4 linked regions of the Homo sapiens genome follow. The protein of the gene in region 1 purifies or fractionates together with the protein of each later gene. This does not show direct contact. Each region holds a gene or a part of one and is shown in the gene's direction. Other genes may lie near its edges.

What was found.
Region 2: the proteins of TYRO3 (region 1) and TM9SF3 purify together in Homo sapiens (affinity purification with mass spectrometry; one large-scale study listed by BioGRID and IntAct). This does not show direct contact.
Region 3: the proteins of TYRO3 (region 1) and SUPV3L1 purify together in Homo sapiens (affinity purification with mass spectrometry; one large-scale study listed by BioGRID and IntAct). This does not show direct contact.
Region 4: the proteins of TYRO3 (region 1) and DSC3 purify together in Homo sapiens (affinity purification with mass spectrometry; one large-scale study listed by BioGRID and IntAct). This does not show direct contact.

The regions. Positions count from the first base shown.
Region 1 is NC_000015.10:41,565,004-41,570,078, forward strand, and holds part of TYRO3 (tyrosine-protein kinase receptor TYRO3 isoform 1 precursor), read left to right. Parts: intron 1-22; coding exon 23-138; intron 139-2,356; coding exon 2,357-2,534; intron 2,535-3,213; coding exon 3,214-3,359; intron 3,360-3,874; coding exon 3,875-4,019; intron 4,020-5,023; coding exon 5,024-5,075. UniProt on the Homo sapiens protein: Receptor tyrosine kinase that transduces signals from the extracellular matrix into the cytoplasm by binding to several ligands including TULP1 or GAS6. Regulates many physiological processes including cell survival, migration and differentiation.
Region 2 is NC_000010.11:96,580,513-96,584,012, reverse strand, and holds part of TM9SF3 (transmembrane 9 superfamily member 3 precursor), read left to right. Parts: intron 1-3,500.
Region 3 is NC_000010.11:69,200,734-69,204,233, forward strand, and holds part of SUPV3L1 (ATP-dependent RNA helicase SUPV3L1, mitochondrial), read left to right. Parts: intron 1-1,705; coding exon 1,706-1,786; intron 1,787-2,133; coding exon 2,134-2,310; intron 2,311-3,500. UniProt on the Homo sapiens protein: Major helicase player in mitochondrial RNA metabolism. Component of the mitochondrial degradosome (mtEXO) complex, that degrades 3' overhang double-stranded RNA with a 3'-to-5' directionality in an ATP-dependent manner.
Region 4 is NC_000018.10:31,039,943-31,044,242, reverse strand, and holds the start of DSC3 (desmocollin-3 isoform Dsc3a preproprotein), read left to right. Parts: upstream 1-1,500; 5' UTR 1,501-1,582; coding exon 1,583-1,651; exon of another isoform or gene 1,652-1,801; intron 1,802-2,408; exon of another isoform or gene 2,409-2,710; intron 2,711-4,300. UniProt on the Homo sapiens protein: A component of desmosome cell-cell junctions which are required for positive regulation of cellular adhesion. Required for cell-cell adhesion in the epidermis, as a result required for the maintenance of the dermal cohesion and the dermal barrier function.

The DNA.
Region 1 (5,075 bases):
GATTCTGAGTCCCCGTCCACAGCACTGCCTGCAGCCCCCTTCAACATCACCGTGACAAAGCTTTCCAGCAGCAACGCTAGTGTGGCCTGGATGCCAGGTGCTGATGGCCGAGCTCTGCTACAGTCCTGTACAGTTCAGGTAGGCTCTCCGGGCCGGGCCATGCTCGTTCTGGCTGCATGGCCAGCACTTTGTTGACAGGGATATCACACTCACTAGCCAGCTCCTGGGGGCTTGGTCTGCAGCTCTTTTCAGGCTCTGCTCCTTAGCAGGAAGAACACAGGCCACTGTCTCTTATCATGGGGTGCTCTGGCAACTAAGTGACTTTGCAGATTGGCTCAAACTCATGCATTCATAAGGTTGGAAAGCAGATCACTAGAACAGATTTGGGGTACCTGGAAGGTTTTTCTTTCTTTCTTTTTTTTTTTGAGACAGGGTCTCACTGTTGGCCAGGCTGGAGTGCAGTGGTGCCATCTCGGCTCACTGCAACCTCCACCTCCTGGGTTCAAGTGATTCTCCTGCCTCAGCCTCCCCAGCAGCTAGGATTAGGATTACAGTCATGCACCACCACGCCCAGCTAACTTTTTTTTTTTTTTTTTGTATTTTTAGTAGAGACTAGTAGTTCACCATATTAGCCAGCCTGATCTCAAACTCCTGACTTCAAGTGATCTACCTGCCTCAGCCTCCCAAAGTGCTGGTATTACAGGCATGAACCAGCACACCCAGACGAGTTTTTCTTACTTAGGTGAAAGCTCAAACCTTTGCTGATACTCACCCTATCATGCTCCACCTTACCCCCCAACCCCCACTCAAGCCAAAGAGAACAAGATGACCAGAAGGGGCCCTAAGCCTTGGAGAGTGGAAAAACTGTGTAAGGTGATACTAAAAACAAGAGGCAATGCAGGCTTGCTCATTTTCATCCGTTTACTCAAAGGCCATTTAATGAGTACCTTTCAAAACTGTTCTGGGCAGTTCCCCTGGGCAGGAGGGGCCCCTGCTCTGGGCTCCACCATTTAGAGAACCCTACTGAGGTTGGGCACAGTGGCTTATGCCTGTAATCCCAGCACTTTGGGAGGTGGAGACGGGAGGATTGCTTGAGCCTGGGGGTTCAAGACCAGCCTGGGCAACATGGCAAAACCCTTTCTCTACAAAAAATACAAAAATTATCCAGGCACAGTGGCATGCGCCTGTACTTCTAACTATTCAGGAGGCTAGAGTGGGAGGATGACTTGAGCCTGAGAAGTCAAGCCTGCGGTGAGCCGAGATCATGCCACTGCACTCCAGCCTGAGTGAGTGACAGGGCAAGATCCTGTCTCTATTAAAAAAAAAAAAAAAAAAAAAAAAAAAAAGAGGATCCTACTCTGGCCCTCCTTTGGCCACACCCCTTTCCCCGGGGCAAAGAGCCTACAGGGCCAAGAGGATATGCCCATCCAGATGGCAAGGACCCCCTCACTGCCACACTATACTATAGCTATTCAGGATCTCTTGCCCTAATGGTTCTGAGTCTGCTTCTGGGGTCTGTGTGGGCCTTTTCCCTGTTCCATCTTCCCAAGGATGGACCGCAGTGTGATATGACCACCTCTAAGCCCAAGGGGCAGCCATTCGTGAGGGGGATGGGAATGGAGCTTGGATATGCAGTCAGCATTGTCCACGCCTGTGCACATGAGGCCCCTCATGGTGCAGACCTTGGCTTCAGGCCAGCTCTTCCAGTGCCTCCTCATTCTGACTCGGGACTCCAGGGATTTGGAGAGTTACAAATGCAAACCTGATCTCCCAGGTTGTTTTGAAGGTTTATTGGTCAAAATATTAAGAGAGAAACTATTTAATAGTTTGTTAGCTGATTTATAATGTTTAAATATTTAGACATATAGTACGTGGATCTCTTTGTACTCTTGCCCTGGGCCCCCAAAATGTAAGATGAAGGGCTGGTTCATAGTGCCCTAGGCTCCCAGTTTTCTCTGAGCTTCAGAAGCTCTAGAACTTTGGAGTGGCATGTAAACAGGCACAGTAAGTGGTAAGTATACCCTAAGAGTTTCGTACCAAGTACAAAAGGACAAGAGTTTTCTGGAGTGGTTGAGAAAGGCTTTCACCAAGAAAGTGATATTTGCACTGAGTCTTAAAGGATGAGTAGGCCTTTGCTAGGAAGAGCAGGTCATTCCAAGTGAAAGGAACAGCATTTGCAAAGGTATGAAGATGTGGAACCCTGTGTATTATTGGGGTGGGGGCAGATGGGAGGGCGTGGGTTGCAAGTGTTTGCTGATAGAGGAAGCATTCATTCAAGCACCCATAACTATACCCATCCCATCTTCCATCTCTCACAGGCTCTCCCCTACATCATTAGTTTTCTGCTTTTCTGTAGGTGACACAGGCCCCAGGAGGCTGGGAAGTCCTGGCTGTTGTGGTCCCTGTGCCCCCCTTTACCTGCCTGCTCCGGGACCTGGTGCCTGCCACCAACTACAGCCTCAGGGTGCGCTGTGCCAATGCCTTGGGGCCCTCTCCCTATGCTGACTGGGTGCCCTTTCAGACCAAGGGTCTAGGTAAGGGATGCATAGAGCAGAGCGGGTGGGCAGGGCTGGAGCCGGGAAGGGGGCCGTGTTGGCTGGAGTTCTGAATGGTGCTGGTAGAGATGGAGGTTCAGGCATCATTCGGCAAACATTTACTGCATATAACTACATACCACCTTGTAAGTAGTTCTTGTAGGTGGAACAGATAAGCAAACTGGAAAAGATCAGATAATGTGGTTGATAAAGAGTGTCCCCAGGTGGTTAAGGAAACCCCCCCTAAAAAGGTCTGAAGGATAAAGATCTGAAGGATCTGGGATCTGAACGATAAAGAAGAAGCCATGTAAATATCTGGGGGAAAATCACTGCCGGAAGAAGGCACAGCAAGTGCAAAGACCCTATGACAGGAACTTGCTTGGCAATTGCAAAGAGGCTGGCATAGCTGTGAGAGGGGAGTGGTAAGGGGTGAGGCAGAAAGGCAGTAACCATGGTGATGAAGAGCAACACTGCCGAGCTGGGGTGCTGCCTGTCCTGCCCATTGCTTACCCCTCCCCCAGCACAGTGGGTGAGAGCAGTCAGAGCTGGGAGGTGAACCCTTCCCCAGTTTGTGCCTCTCAGAGCTGTTTAGTTCTTGGGAGTTGATTCCAAAGGTCTGCATGGAATTATGATGGTGGGAAGGGCAGGGGTCTTAGCAATCTTCTCTCTTTGGCTGCAGCCCCAGCCAGCGCTCCCCAAAACCTCCATGCCATCCGCACAGATTCAGGCCTCATCTTGGAGTGGGAAGAAGTGATCCCCGAGGCCCCTTTGGAAGGCCCCCTGGGACCCTACAAACTGTCCTGGGTTCAAGACAATGGAACCCAGGTAAGACAGAACCCTCCCCTCTCTCCACTCTCCTGGAGTATAAGCCTTCAGGGTTCTAAGGCCTTTAAGAATTTCAAAATGATTGTCTTTGGTGGGCCTGGGTCTCCCGCAGCCCCAGGGAATCCTTTCCTCCTCACCCTCCTCTGCAAGCTCCACTTCTCAAAGGATTATGTCTCCTGTTAGGGTTGCATCCTGTGTGCACTTTGTAAATAAAGCAGGAAGCACATTCCTGCTTGAGCTGGGGGAGGGCACAGATAAGGCTTTGTCCCCAGCTCAGTTCGCTCCCATCCCCCACCTGTGCATTCCGGGACTGAGCCTTGTTTGTGTTCTGGAGAGGCCCCTGCAGCCGGGAACAGGAATGTGATTACTCCCAGAAGGTTGTGTTCCTGCAGCCCCTGAACCCACAGTGCCCCTATACTCCCATGTTCCCAGCTGGACCTTTTTCTGTCCTCAGGCCCCAGCTGGAGGCCTTCTCCCCAGGCTCACTATGGGGTGGGGGCTTTTCCTGGCTGCAGGATGAGCTGACAGTGGAGGGGACCAGGGCCAATTTGACAGGCTGGGATCCCCAAAAGGACCTGATCGTACGTGTGTGCGTCTCCAATGCAGTTGGCTGTGGACCCTGGAGTCAGCCACTGGTGGTCTCTTCTCATGACCGTGCAGGTGAGGCTTGTAGGTGGAGAGGGGCAGAGGCTCAGGGGATCAAGGTTTTCAAGGGCAACCTAGACTGATGGGAGGAGCCTAGTAGCATCTCCCCTCCTAGTAGACCCACAGACAGAGTGAAGAAGTTGAGGCCAGGGCTGTTTAAACTATCTTGGCTGGGCATGGTGGCTCATGCCTGTAATCCCAACATTTTGGGAGGTTGAGGGATCGCTTGAGGCCGGCAGTTTGAGACCAGCTCTGGCAACATAGCAAGACTCTGTCTCTACAAAAAAATTAAAAAAAAAAAAAAAAAACAATTAGCCTGGTGTAGTGACATATGCCTGTTAAGCCCAGCTGCTCCAGAGGCTGAGGCAGGAGGATTGCTTGAGCCCAGGTGTTTGAGGCTGCAGTGAGCTATGATTGCACCACTGCACTCCAGCCTGGGCAACAGAGTGAGTCTGTTGTCTCTAAAGAAACAAACAAATAAGGCCAGGAGTGGTGGTTCACACCTATAATCCCACAACTTTGGGAGGCTGAGGTGGAAGGATTGCTTGAGTCTAGGAGTTTGAGACCACCTTGGGCAGCAAAGTGAGACTTTACCAAAAAAATTTAAAAATTAGTCAGGTGTGATGTTGCACACCTGTAGTCCCAGCTACTTGGGAGGCTGAAGTGGAAGGATTGCTTGAGCCCAGGAGGTTGAGGCTGCAGTGAGCTGCAACTGTGCCCCTGCACTCTGGCCTGGGCAACAGAACAAGACTGTGTCTCAAACAAACTATATCTCATTCTCCTCTCTCTGCCCCAGAACTGGCATAGAAATCCATGGTCACCCTCTAGGTCACAACAGCCAGGGCCTGTCTCTGACCAGGTAGGAAGGACTCTTAGGCATTCCTCTGGAGCCCCTTTCCCTCAGGACCCTTATTGACCTAGAGGAGCCCCTTGAACCAGCTGGATGGCCATCCTGGGAAAGTTCTGAAGGGACCTCATGGTGTCATCCTAGCTCATGCCACTGCACCTCCCTCCCACAGGCCAGCAGGGCCCTCCTCACAGCCGCACATCCTGGGTACCTGTGGTCCTTGG
Region 2 (3,500 bases), on another chromosome or scaffold:
ACCCAGGCTGGAGTACAGTGGCACAATGTCCACTCACTGCAATCTCTGCCTCCTGGGTTCAAGCAATTCTCCTGCCTCAGCCTCCCTAGTAGCTGTGATTACAGGTGCTTGCCACCATGCCTGGCTAATTTGTGTATTTTTAGTAGAGACGAGGTTTCACCATGTTGGCCAGGCTGGTCTTGAACTCCTGACCTCAGGTGATCTGCCTGCCTCGGCCTCCCAAAGTGCTGGGATTACAGGTGTGAGCCACCATGCCCTGCTGGCTATGCACTGTTCTAAGTATTTTACACTTATTAACTCATCTATTAATAACCTACGAGGTGAGTAATATGCCCATTTTGTAGATGAGGAAAGTGAATCTAGAGAGGTGAGGTCACCTGCAGATAACACACATCTGGTAGGGGTAGAGGTGGGATTTGAACTTAGGCATTCTGAGTTGATAGTCTTCTGCACTGTGAGCCGCCATATGCTCTATTCCCCTTTATCCTAAAAATAAGACAGTAAAGCACTAGGTATTGAGTGGTTCTCTATATTGATTTTTAAGTGCTTAAATGCTTAAATGCTCGAATGAGTGTGGCTCCATGATGAGTTGTTTCTGAGATCTTTGGGTTAGCATTAAGGAGCAATAGTGTTGACTTCATGGGCACGTGCCCTGAATAGTCACAAAAGACTGTGTGAGAGCTTGTTTTCATGCTATCCTGTAACATCTTGAAGTTTTAAATTTTTTAACAAGGGGCTCTGTATTTTTCTGTACTGGGTCGCACAAATTATATAGCTTGTCCTAAGAAGGGACAATACCTTATGCCCATTCCCCAAAGCCCCTGATATCTCTTACTGTACCTACTGAATTAGGATTCAGGTGGCCATCTGACCCATATGGTATTTTTTTTTCTTTTTCTTTCTTTCTTTCTTTTTTTTCTTTTTTTTTTTTTGAGACTATGTTTCACTCTTGTTGCCCAGGCTGGAGTGCAATGGCGTGATCTCGGCTCACTGCAACTTCCGCCTCCCGGGTTCAAACGATTCTCCTGTCTCAGCCTCCTGAGTAGCTGGGATTACAGGCATGTGCTACCGTGCCTGACTAATTTTGTATTTTTTTAGTTGAGACAGGGTTTCTCCATGTTGGTCAGCTGGTCTTGAACTCCTGATATCAGGTGATCCGCCTGCCTCGGCCTCCCAAAGTGCTGGGATTATAGGTGTGAGCCACTGCGCCTGACCCTATGGTATATATGTATATATTTTATGTGCTTATTTGTCCAAAGTTATTTTAATATTCTCTGAAGAGTGTTGAAAAGGAAATGTGCTATTGACTGTATGTACATATCTAGAATATGTAAAAATGTGTTCCTTTTAATTTTTAAAAGTTGAATCATATGCATTACAGACATGTTGTTTGAAATGAAAATTAACACTTTTGTGGAAGACAGGCTTTTAATAACTGATTGAAGGGACATAGGCTTCTTTATAGTCAGTGAAAGGTATGTTTATGCTTATTTGGTTTTCTAAAACTCAAAGCACTTGGAAGCATCTAGAGTTAGATTACTATGTCTCCTAAGATTCCGAAGGACTCCATTAAAAACAATTTCAGATTGAGAATCATAGAATTTTAGAACTAGAAAGACTCAATAATTTAATCCAAAACTCTTCATTTTCCTAATGGCCTGTACAGGTTCAGAGACTTGCTCAAGGCCACAGAAAGAATCAGAGCTTCCTGATCGCCAGTCTTGTCTTTTCTACCTGTCTTTTACATGTAATTCCATAGTTATAATATGTAAAGATGTTAGCAGCAAAAACCCAGTACTTAGGGGCACAGGAATCTTAGAGCATTTTATAGTTTGCACTGTAGCCTTGAATTTTTATGGGTTCTGTTTCCTTAACAAGATCACAAAGTCAGATTTTTTTTTTTTTGGTCTGTTATATACGCAAGCACTGTGCTTGGCACAAATAGTACTTGATGAGTGCTTGTTGAATGACTTGAATAATTAGGGAGCTACTAGTGACAAGGATATGCAGTGTGGAAGCACAATGAACAAACTGAGGCCGTTATTCCTTTAAGATGCATAGTCTTCTGTTTTGATTTGGGGGTCCTACCTAGGCTAAAATTCCCTATTTCTCTGTGGCCCAGTGTACTTCTGGTAATCTTGAGACTTCTAATGTTGGACAGACTGGATGCCTACTAGAATCGTTTACTCAGCCTCTGCCTCATAAATAATTTGTATTATATCACGGAGTGATTTCAGAAATGTTTTGTTTGATTTACTTTGGCAAATGGAAACCTTTTGTCTTTGTCTCTGTTGGGAGTATAGGAACTCTTAAAACTTACTGAAAACTTATAAAGAGTATAAGCTGTTTACTATAAGTGAATTTGTGAGTTATCTAATGTAGATTGTTAAATGCCGTAATTCGTTGTCCTATTTTCAGCTCTACTCAATGATAGACTGAAAGTTTATTTAGGTACAAAGCTATTTTTGAGAGAGAGTAGTTATCTCAAGAGACTATTCAAAATTACATTTCTAATTTATTTGTATTAGAATTCTGATGTGTGTTTTAATAATTTAAAGGTTTTGAAATTATGATTTCTGGAACATTATTTTGAAGTAAACACATATATTTTTCCCCCTTTGTATGAAAATGAAGGATAGCATTTGGGTGCTTGTTCTGAACCCTCAGTCCTTTGCTCATCTATGTAAATTGTGATTTCTTATTCAGATTTCACATGACCACGTCAGCATATTATCTTCTAAAGCGTTTCTCCTGATAATAATTAATTCATTACCTCTGTCAAGGAGGAAAACTTTGGTACCCCCCCAACACATAAACAGTATTTAAATAAGAGGGGCCCAACATTGGTGACTTCTTGAGAATAAAGGTCATTCCTTTTGAGATTAGAGTGCAAATAGCTTCTTAGAAGGTTTTTTTTCTTTCAGGCAGATTAAAGGCTCACATAGAAAAGTTATTCAGTGTTCAGGACTGTCTTTAGTTGCTTTGTACACCTGGCACTGTTTTCATATTTCCTTGATTTAGTTTTTTGCTCTTTAATGAATGAAGCTGACTAGGGATTAGCAAAAATACTAACCTTTTAAACTTGATGCTGATTGATTTGGACAAATTACTTAACATCTCTGTTCTTTAGTTTTGTTTTTGTTTTTAGTCTGTAAAATGGGGAAGTAATAGGACCTATTTTATAGAATTTTGAGATGATTATTTAAGTGTTCATATAAAGACCTTAGAACTATACCTAGCTCATAGTATGTATTTATTGTTAGCTACTGATGTTATTATTACAAAAATGGTGAGATCATGTCATGTTAGGGTTTGGTGAGTTAAGGCTTTACTTGAGGATTTGAAAAAGGAGGATTTGAGCATTTCGGAAGGATTATTAGAGTTTGGCTAAGTGGAGAAAAGGAGGGCATTCTAAATTTGGTGGAATGACGAAAGAAGATGAAGTGGGGCCAGGCGCAGTGGCTCACGCCTGTAATCCCAGCACTTTGGGAGGCCGAGGC
Region 3 (3,500 bases), on another chromosome or scaffold:
GAGCCTGATTTGCCTTTACTTCCTTCCGGAATCTAGCAGCGGGAAGGAACAGGGAGAAAAGCAGTTTCTTCAGCTGAGCACACAGAGCTACATTAGTGGACTGAAAAATGACCAGAAGCCTGAATATAGACGAAACCTTGTATTGCTTGGGGCAAAAACAGCCCTAAGCAATACAACTTCATCCAGTGAGGAGAAGGTTAAATTTTGGTTAATATTAGTTAATGAGTTAGAATTGTACATATTTGAAACAAACTTTCTAGTAATAGTCAAAATTTAAAGTTCCCTGGAAAATTCACTTACATGGCTTATCTCATTTGTGACACTAGATGAAGGGGAGTATAGACATGAGATCATACAGGGAGAAGCATGCAGGGAGAGAAGCTTCCAGGGGAAGGCTGTGCTGGAATCATTTCTGTAACTTCTCAGCAGTACAGTTAGGTTCGTGGTTGGCTCCTGTGACCTCCCTGCTTCCCTCCTGGGCACCTCATGTCTTGGACTCTTCTTCCCTCCCTTATGACTAATTTCTCTTGCCTCTTTTCTTCTGTCTTTTTCATTCACTTTCTCTCTCTGTTTCATACTTCATTCCTTATACTTTCCTGTGGCCATGTCCTAACGGTGTAATGTGTAGCTAAAGAGAACTCACTTCCAGTTTAAAAATGTTCTCATGTCTTTCTAGATGTATATATCTATGTTAGTTTTATTGCCTTGGTTAAAGTGACTGGGTTTTTCTTATTCATTTTAATTCAATGAGGAGAAATGAGACATGGAAAATGGTTTTACCCTGGAAAACAGGTTTTTCTTTCCTTTTTTTTTTTTTTTGAGATAGTGTTTCACTCTGTTACTCAGGCTTCAGTGCTGTGGCATGATCACGGCTCACGGTAACCCCAATCTCCTGAGCTCAGGAGAGCCTTGCACCTCAGCCTCTTGAGCAGCTGGGACTTCAGGTGCTCACCACCATGCTTGGCTGATTTTTTAAAAATTTTTTGTAGAGATGGGAATCTCCTTTTGTTGCCCAGGCTGATCTTGAACTACTGTCCTCAAGTAATCCTCCCACCTTGGCCTCCCAAAGTGTTGGGATTACAGGCATGAGCCACTGCACCTGGCCGTAAAATCTTTTTTTTTTTTTTAGACGGAGTCTTGCTCTGTCGCCAGGCTGGAGTGCAGTGGCGCGATCTCGGCTCACTGCAAGCTCTGCCTGCTGGGTTCAAGTGATTCTCATGCCTCAGCCTCCCGAGTAGCTGGGATTACAGGCACGCAGCACCACACCCAGCTAATTTTTGCATTTTTAGTAGAGACGGGGTTTCACCATGTTGGGCAGGATGGTCTCAATCTCCTGACCTCGTGATCCGCCCACCTTGGCCTCCCAAAGTGCTGGGATTACAGGCATGAGCCACCACACCCAGCCCATAAAATCATTTTTTGTACACTGCCAGATCATCATAGGTTTTAGAAATATAACTAAAATGTAAGCAAAAGACTAATTTCTCAGTGGCCATAATCTGTCATTTTTACTAAATCATCAACTTTTCTAATTGGTAATAAATGGTAAAATGATATTTTTTCTCTTTTACTCAAATTCTTGGCATTTACTTCATATGGTGAGAGCTTAGCCTGAATGGGACTTTATCGTGCAATAACTTAAGAAAATTTGTCCTTTTTGAAAAAAAAAAAATCAGCTTATGATTGTTTTTTCTTTTACTAAAAGGCAGCTGGTCTTCATCCAACTGCTGAGCAGATTGAAATGTTTGCCTACCATCTCCCTGATGCAACACTGTCCAATCTCATTGTAAGTGGAAACTCCCTTTCACATCTCCCCTAAAAATGTTGATATGTCAGGTGATTACTGGTTAACCTCATGAGCATGAATGGATAGTCTGCCTTTGAGAAGTTGCTATTTATAAAATTTATTTTACAAGTGAAAATTTTTTCTCAAAATCTTTTGGGACTTTAGCCCTGAGGAATTTCCTCTCAGTATTTCAGGTGGGGAAGGATATGAGGGAGTGATTAAAGCAAGCCTTTATGGAAGTTTGTTCTGGATTAAAGAGATTGTCTTTTATAGACTTGAGTATGTTATTCATTGTTCATTTTAATTCACTTAGGCAGTCCAGTAATTTCTGTCTTTTTTTCCCCAAGGATATTTTTGTAGACTTTTCACAAGTTGATGGGCAGTATTTTGTCTGCAATATGGATGATTTTAAATTTTCTGCAGAGTTGATCCAGCATATTCCACTAAGTCTGCGAGTGAGGTATGTTTTCTGCACAGCTCCTATCAACAAGAAGCAGCCTTTTGTGTGTTCTTCACTGTTACAGGTAAGCCTTTATCTTTAAGCTATTTTGAGTTCCTTCTGGTTGATGCAGGTTCCCCAAACAGTACTTTGTTATTCAAAATAAAATAATTACAAGAGTATTCAGTAATATGAGAGACTTTGTAAAAACTTAAATAGGGGTTAATAGTAGCAACAGTGTTCAGTTTTCTTAAGTGTAAAGCACTGAGCCAGGGGTTACTGTCTTGTATGAGCACCATGCCAGGGTTCTAGCCTCTTTTAACTCATTTGGGTAGGGATGCAAATCTCTGACTTCTGAGAAGCACAGGATTCCTGGGGGCCAGGAAGGACAGTGGACTATGGAGAACCATAAATCTCTACCAAGGCCGGGTGCAGTGGCTCACGCCTGTAATCCCAGCACTTTGGGAGGCCGAGGCGGGTGGATCACTTGAGGTCAGGAATTCGAGACCAGCCTGGCCAAGCTGGTGAAACCCTGTCTCTACTAAAAATACAAAAATTATCCGGGCATGGTGGTGGGCACCTGTAATCCCAGCTACTCGGGAGGCTGAGGCAGGAGAATCACTTAAACCAAGGAGGCAGAGGTTGCAGTGAGCCAAGATCGCACCATTGCACTCCAGCCTGGGTGACAGAGCGAGACTCTGTCTCAAAAAAAAAAAAAACAAAACTCTACCAAGGTTTATCATAACAATACTTTTATTTAATTTAATTTTATTTATTTTATATTTGAGGCAGGGTCTTGCTCTGTTGCCCAGGCTGGAGTGCAATGGTGCAATCACAGCTCACTGCAACCTCAACCTCCCTGGCTCAAGTGATCCTGCCACCTCAGCCTCCCAAGTAGCTGGGACTACAGGCATGTGCCACCATGCCCAGCTAATTTTTGCATTTTTTGTAGAGACAGATCTCTCTATGTTACCCAGGCTGGTCTCGAGCTCCTGGAGGCAAGTGATCATCCCACCTCAGCCTCCCAAAGTGCTGGGATTACAGGCATGAGCCACCTAGTCCAGCCTAATATTTTAATTATTAAAAATGTTTTTGAAAGGATCCAAATGTCCAACAAGAGGGAAAAGGTTAACTACATTATGGCATATCCACTTGATTGGATATTAGGAAGACATTGCAATGATAATTATGATTATAATGAAGAAATCTACATAAGTGGTTACACTATAACAGTAAGTGAGGGAAGCGGTTCAGAACTGTATGTACCTTATAAAC
Region 4 (4,300 bases), on another chromosome or scaffold:
ACTTTGAGAAGCTTTCTCTGAGGTCATGCTGGAGGCACGTGGAGGATGGGAGGTGAAAACCCTGGAGTGGAGAGAAGTTTGGAGAACTTTCTCTGAGACTGGAAGAGCTCTTACATACAGAGACCTCCACTGACGGGTGCCTGGGAGATTCACACTGGGAAGCTCAACTTAGAGTGTCTGAGCCCTTAAAGCTGAGCCTCATGAGTTTCAGGGAAGCCCCAGACTTCAGGGAATACATGGCTTAGACGACGAGGAGTCTATTAGACTTGAGCCAGAGTGAGATGAATGAAGGTCATAACACCCTTTCATGATTAATTGGCTGTCTGAAATTCCCGACCTTGCAACTTTTGAATGGACTTCGAGGAGTAGCATCTCATGTCTGAGAGGGATTTCCTCCTGAATCCAGTAGATGGGAACTCGGGGAACTTAAAATTCAGTTTAGGGAGAAATAAGAGGATGTCCCCCTGGTGTTACAAACGACATCTCTATTAAAAAGTGTAGCCTACTGGGCTAGGAATGATTGTCTTTCGTCCCTTTCTGACTTTGAATTATTTCCGACAGGAACTAGATTTTCTGCATTTCCTTTCTTCCATGCCCTCACACAAAGCTTGGCCGACTTCGGGCCCTGATAAATAGTCGTTGCATGATGTAGAATCTGTAAGCCTCGTTTTAGAAGGTTTTGTGTGGTAGATATTCCTTTGACCACCTGAAAAATTTCATTTTGGTACCAGTAAGTAGTAAACCAATAATTCACATCTAAGAACAAAGTCGTTTTTAGAAGGTTCATATGAGTCCCCCAAACTGACAGTTAATAGAGCGCTGAGTGTAATCACTCATATTTTGGGTGCGTAAAAATGGTTAGATTAGAATTTCTTAAATTTGGTTTTAATTTCTGACATGCCAAAAACTGTTTATCATGCCATCTGGGATAAATTCCTTCTGTCGTGTATTTTGTCATGTTAGTCAAATCCGGAGAGAATACAGTACATGTATTTTGCTTTAATCTGAAAACATTGGCAGAATTTGTTCAGACGTCGAAGGGGAGATCCGCTGATCCAATGACAAGGGTGTTCCTGGCATCCAGCAGAGCCCGTGTCGAGGCAGGGATCCCTGCGGGCGGATTGGGGTTCTGCATTGAGATGCACCGCGCAGCGCCGGCGATGGGGCCGCCCTGGGACGATCTGGGCTGCCAGGGCCTCTCTGCGGGCCGGGCGGGGCGGCAGCGCCGCGGGGCAGCCGAGGGGCGTGGGAGAACTGGCAGAGGGTGCGCCAGAGACCGCTTTCCCGAGCGCGAACGCCCGGGTGGCTGCTGGGGAGCAGAGGGGCAGGCTCGGGCAGCTCCTCAGCCGCGCCGGCGATGATAAAACTTGAGAAATAACAAGGAGTGGCCTCTCCGCGTCCTCTGGGTCCAATCCGGTTTCAGAAGTGAAGTTGCTCCCGGGCAGGCAAGCCTGAGAGAGGCCAAATACACTTAAAAACAAGCAGCGGCGAGAAAAGCACCTCCCGCGCCCTGCACCTCGGCAGGTCTCGCTCTCGGCACCCTCCCGGCGCCCGCGTTCTCCTGGCCCTGCCCGGCATCCCGATGGCCGCCGCTGGGCCCCGGCGCTCCGTGCGCGGAGCCGTCTGCCTGCATCTGCTGCTGACCCTCGTGGTAAGCCAGATCTCGCCGGATAGGGCTGGGGTGGGGACGGGGGTGGATCCGCCCTGGACGCTGCACGGAGCTGGGGACAAAGCGGGCCGAAACGTGACAACCGCGGCTCAGATCAATGCTGCGGGTCTGGTAGCAGCCCCAAGTTCGGGCCTGCAGGAGTGAGGAGAGAAAACGTGTGTTTGCGGGTCGACTCTGGACTGAGCTTTTTGTTTTGAGACAAGGTGTTCGATTGTTGGAATTCTGAGTCGCGCTCAGGCTTCGCTGCGCTCTGGCGGGCGCCGTCGCGGGTTGGGCAGGGGGTTGGGATTCACGCTTCTCCCCAGGTGGTGGAGCTGGTGGTGATGGTGGTTGGAGGGCGCCTTTGGGTGGAGAGGATCCCTGAGAGCTCAAAGCACAGACTTGAAAAGGGATTTAGGGGCTGCCCCCTCCCCAGCTCTGGGTCGCAGTTGACCCGGATTGGTTCGTTAGTGAGTGGAGCCGGGGCTGTGTCCCTGGGTCCCTTGGTGGGGCTGCCCCTGAGAAGTGGGTTTCTCGGTATCTCCCCTAAAGGGTATTCAGAAGCTCACCCAAGCGGTCCACCCCCGCCAGCCACCCAGCTGGGGGCGGGATGTGCCGGGGGCGCGAAAGTGTGGGAAGACCGGGCCAGAATGGGGGTTGGGGTCGTGTTGTGTTTTGGGGATGCTGCCGAGGTGTGGAGGCGGGTAGAGGGTGACAGTGGTGGGGGATGATGGATGCGGTGGGGTTGCGTCGTACTTACTCCGGCTCCGGGGAGGACTGCGCGGCCGGAGCACAGCCTGGGGTTTCGAGTCTACGGAAACCTGCCGCCCAGGACGAAATCCTCTAGGAGAGGAAGTTAGAGACGATGCTCTGAGAACACGGGAGACTTGAAGTGTTCGGAACTCTGGCGGCGCGGTTACACGCGAAGCTTCAGGCTTCAACAGAGTTTCATTCCGCACGCCCAGAAAGGAGCCGCGGACCCGCGACTTACCCGCATCCATGGATGCGCATGGGGTCCGATGGGAGCGAGGTCTATACCCGCGTCGGCAGTGAGCCGAGTCTGGTCTCGCGGATTCTTACTGCTTCCTGGCCCTCCACCCTGGCAAGTGGGAGTGGGTCCAAGGGTTGTCCTCCCTTAAGGTCAGCGAGGTATGAATATGGGATTGGTAGTTATGATCTACGATATGTTTATGGAGAAGGAATTGGACAAATAAGCGCATCCATTTGCCCGGGAACTGTTCCAACAAAGTATCTGAGCTTATGAAGTGACTACAAATGGAAACGGCTTAGAGAATGTGTTCTTTTGTAATATATTTAAAAGCATTTTCAGCTTTTCAGTTTACAAGCATGCATTTGGGGTTTTGTGTTTCCTTTGCGAAGGGATTGAGGATGGGGAACGAAACTACGGGTGCTGCTCTCAGAATTTCTCGCATTCGCTCGAGGCTCCCAGAGGCCATGGAAGACCAGGAGCTTTCCCGGCAAGGCATGGGTGGGGGTGTCGAGCTGTGGCAAGGAAGAAGGTGCGCGTAAATCTAAACGGAGGAAGCTTCAGCTTTGATCTAGCACATACTCGTTTAAGATTTTTTTTTTTTAAAATAATTCCGTTGAGTTTAGGTTAAATGCTGTATCTGGAGACTTAAATACCGGAAAGTGCACAGAAAATGACTATTTCATCTGCAATTGTCAGTTTACAAACACTTGCAATTTCGGACCGGATGGGTAAATTAACACTTCTCTTGACCATCTCATGTATGTATTTCCTTCCTTTTGACTCATACGACTCTCAACTTTTCAATATAATATTAATGACACGGCATTTTAGAAACATTTTTCATTTTATAGAGACTTTAATGGATATCTTTAAACCATTACTTATCTTTAAAACATTGTTTGTTCTAAGGAGACAGCTTTTCAAAGCAAGTCTTTAACAAGAATCTGAGACTTGTTAAATTTTAGTCTTCCCAGTAAGCAGCCCAACAGGTTGAGGGAATTTTCCCATTCTGCATTTTTCCTGTATCTCCTTCCCACCGTGTGCCCCACCACACTCTGAAGTGTAAATACAGTTTCTAATAATCACACGCACAAAGAAAAAAATGACAGGGAGATACTAAAAAAAGAAGTATATCAGAGCATCTCACTCACTATTGTAAGTTTTTGATTGCCTCAGAAAGTGTTTTTTCCTCTTAATGTAACCAGAATTGTTAGGGATGGTGGAAACTAATTTACATGAGATCAGTTGTCTTCTGCCTGTTACAAATAATAAGATTCTTTTAAAAATATGTGTTAATACTGTTATCAAATCCACTTTAAGATTATGTTATCTAGTATACATTATAAATGGCACATACTTGGACACGGCTAATCCATCATTTTGTTAAAAGGGCTCCTCTTCTAAAGGAACTAAAATAGTTGAAACGTTTGCAATAACTCCCCTCAAATCTGTACTTTTCCTCTTTGGAGTATATGAACTCTGCCTGCAACCTATGTTGATAAATAGGCATCCAAATTTTTATATTTGTTAGGGTTAATGTGAATAATGTGAGTCCTTACCAGAAAAACTTGTGATGTTTTTGCTCTTGGTAATATTTGATATATTCATCATTTTAAATTAAAAGGGAGTATAGTAATTTCTAAAGGCTTTTACATTTGTGA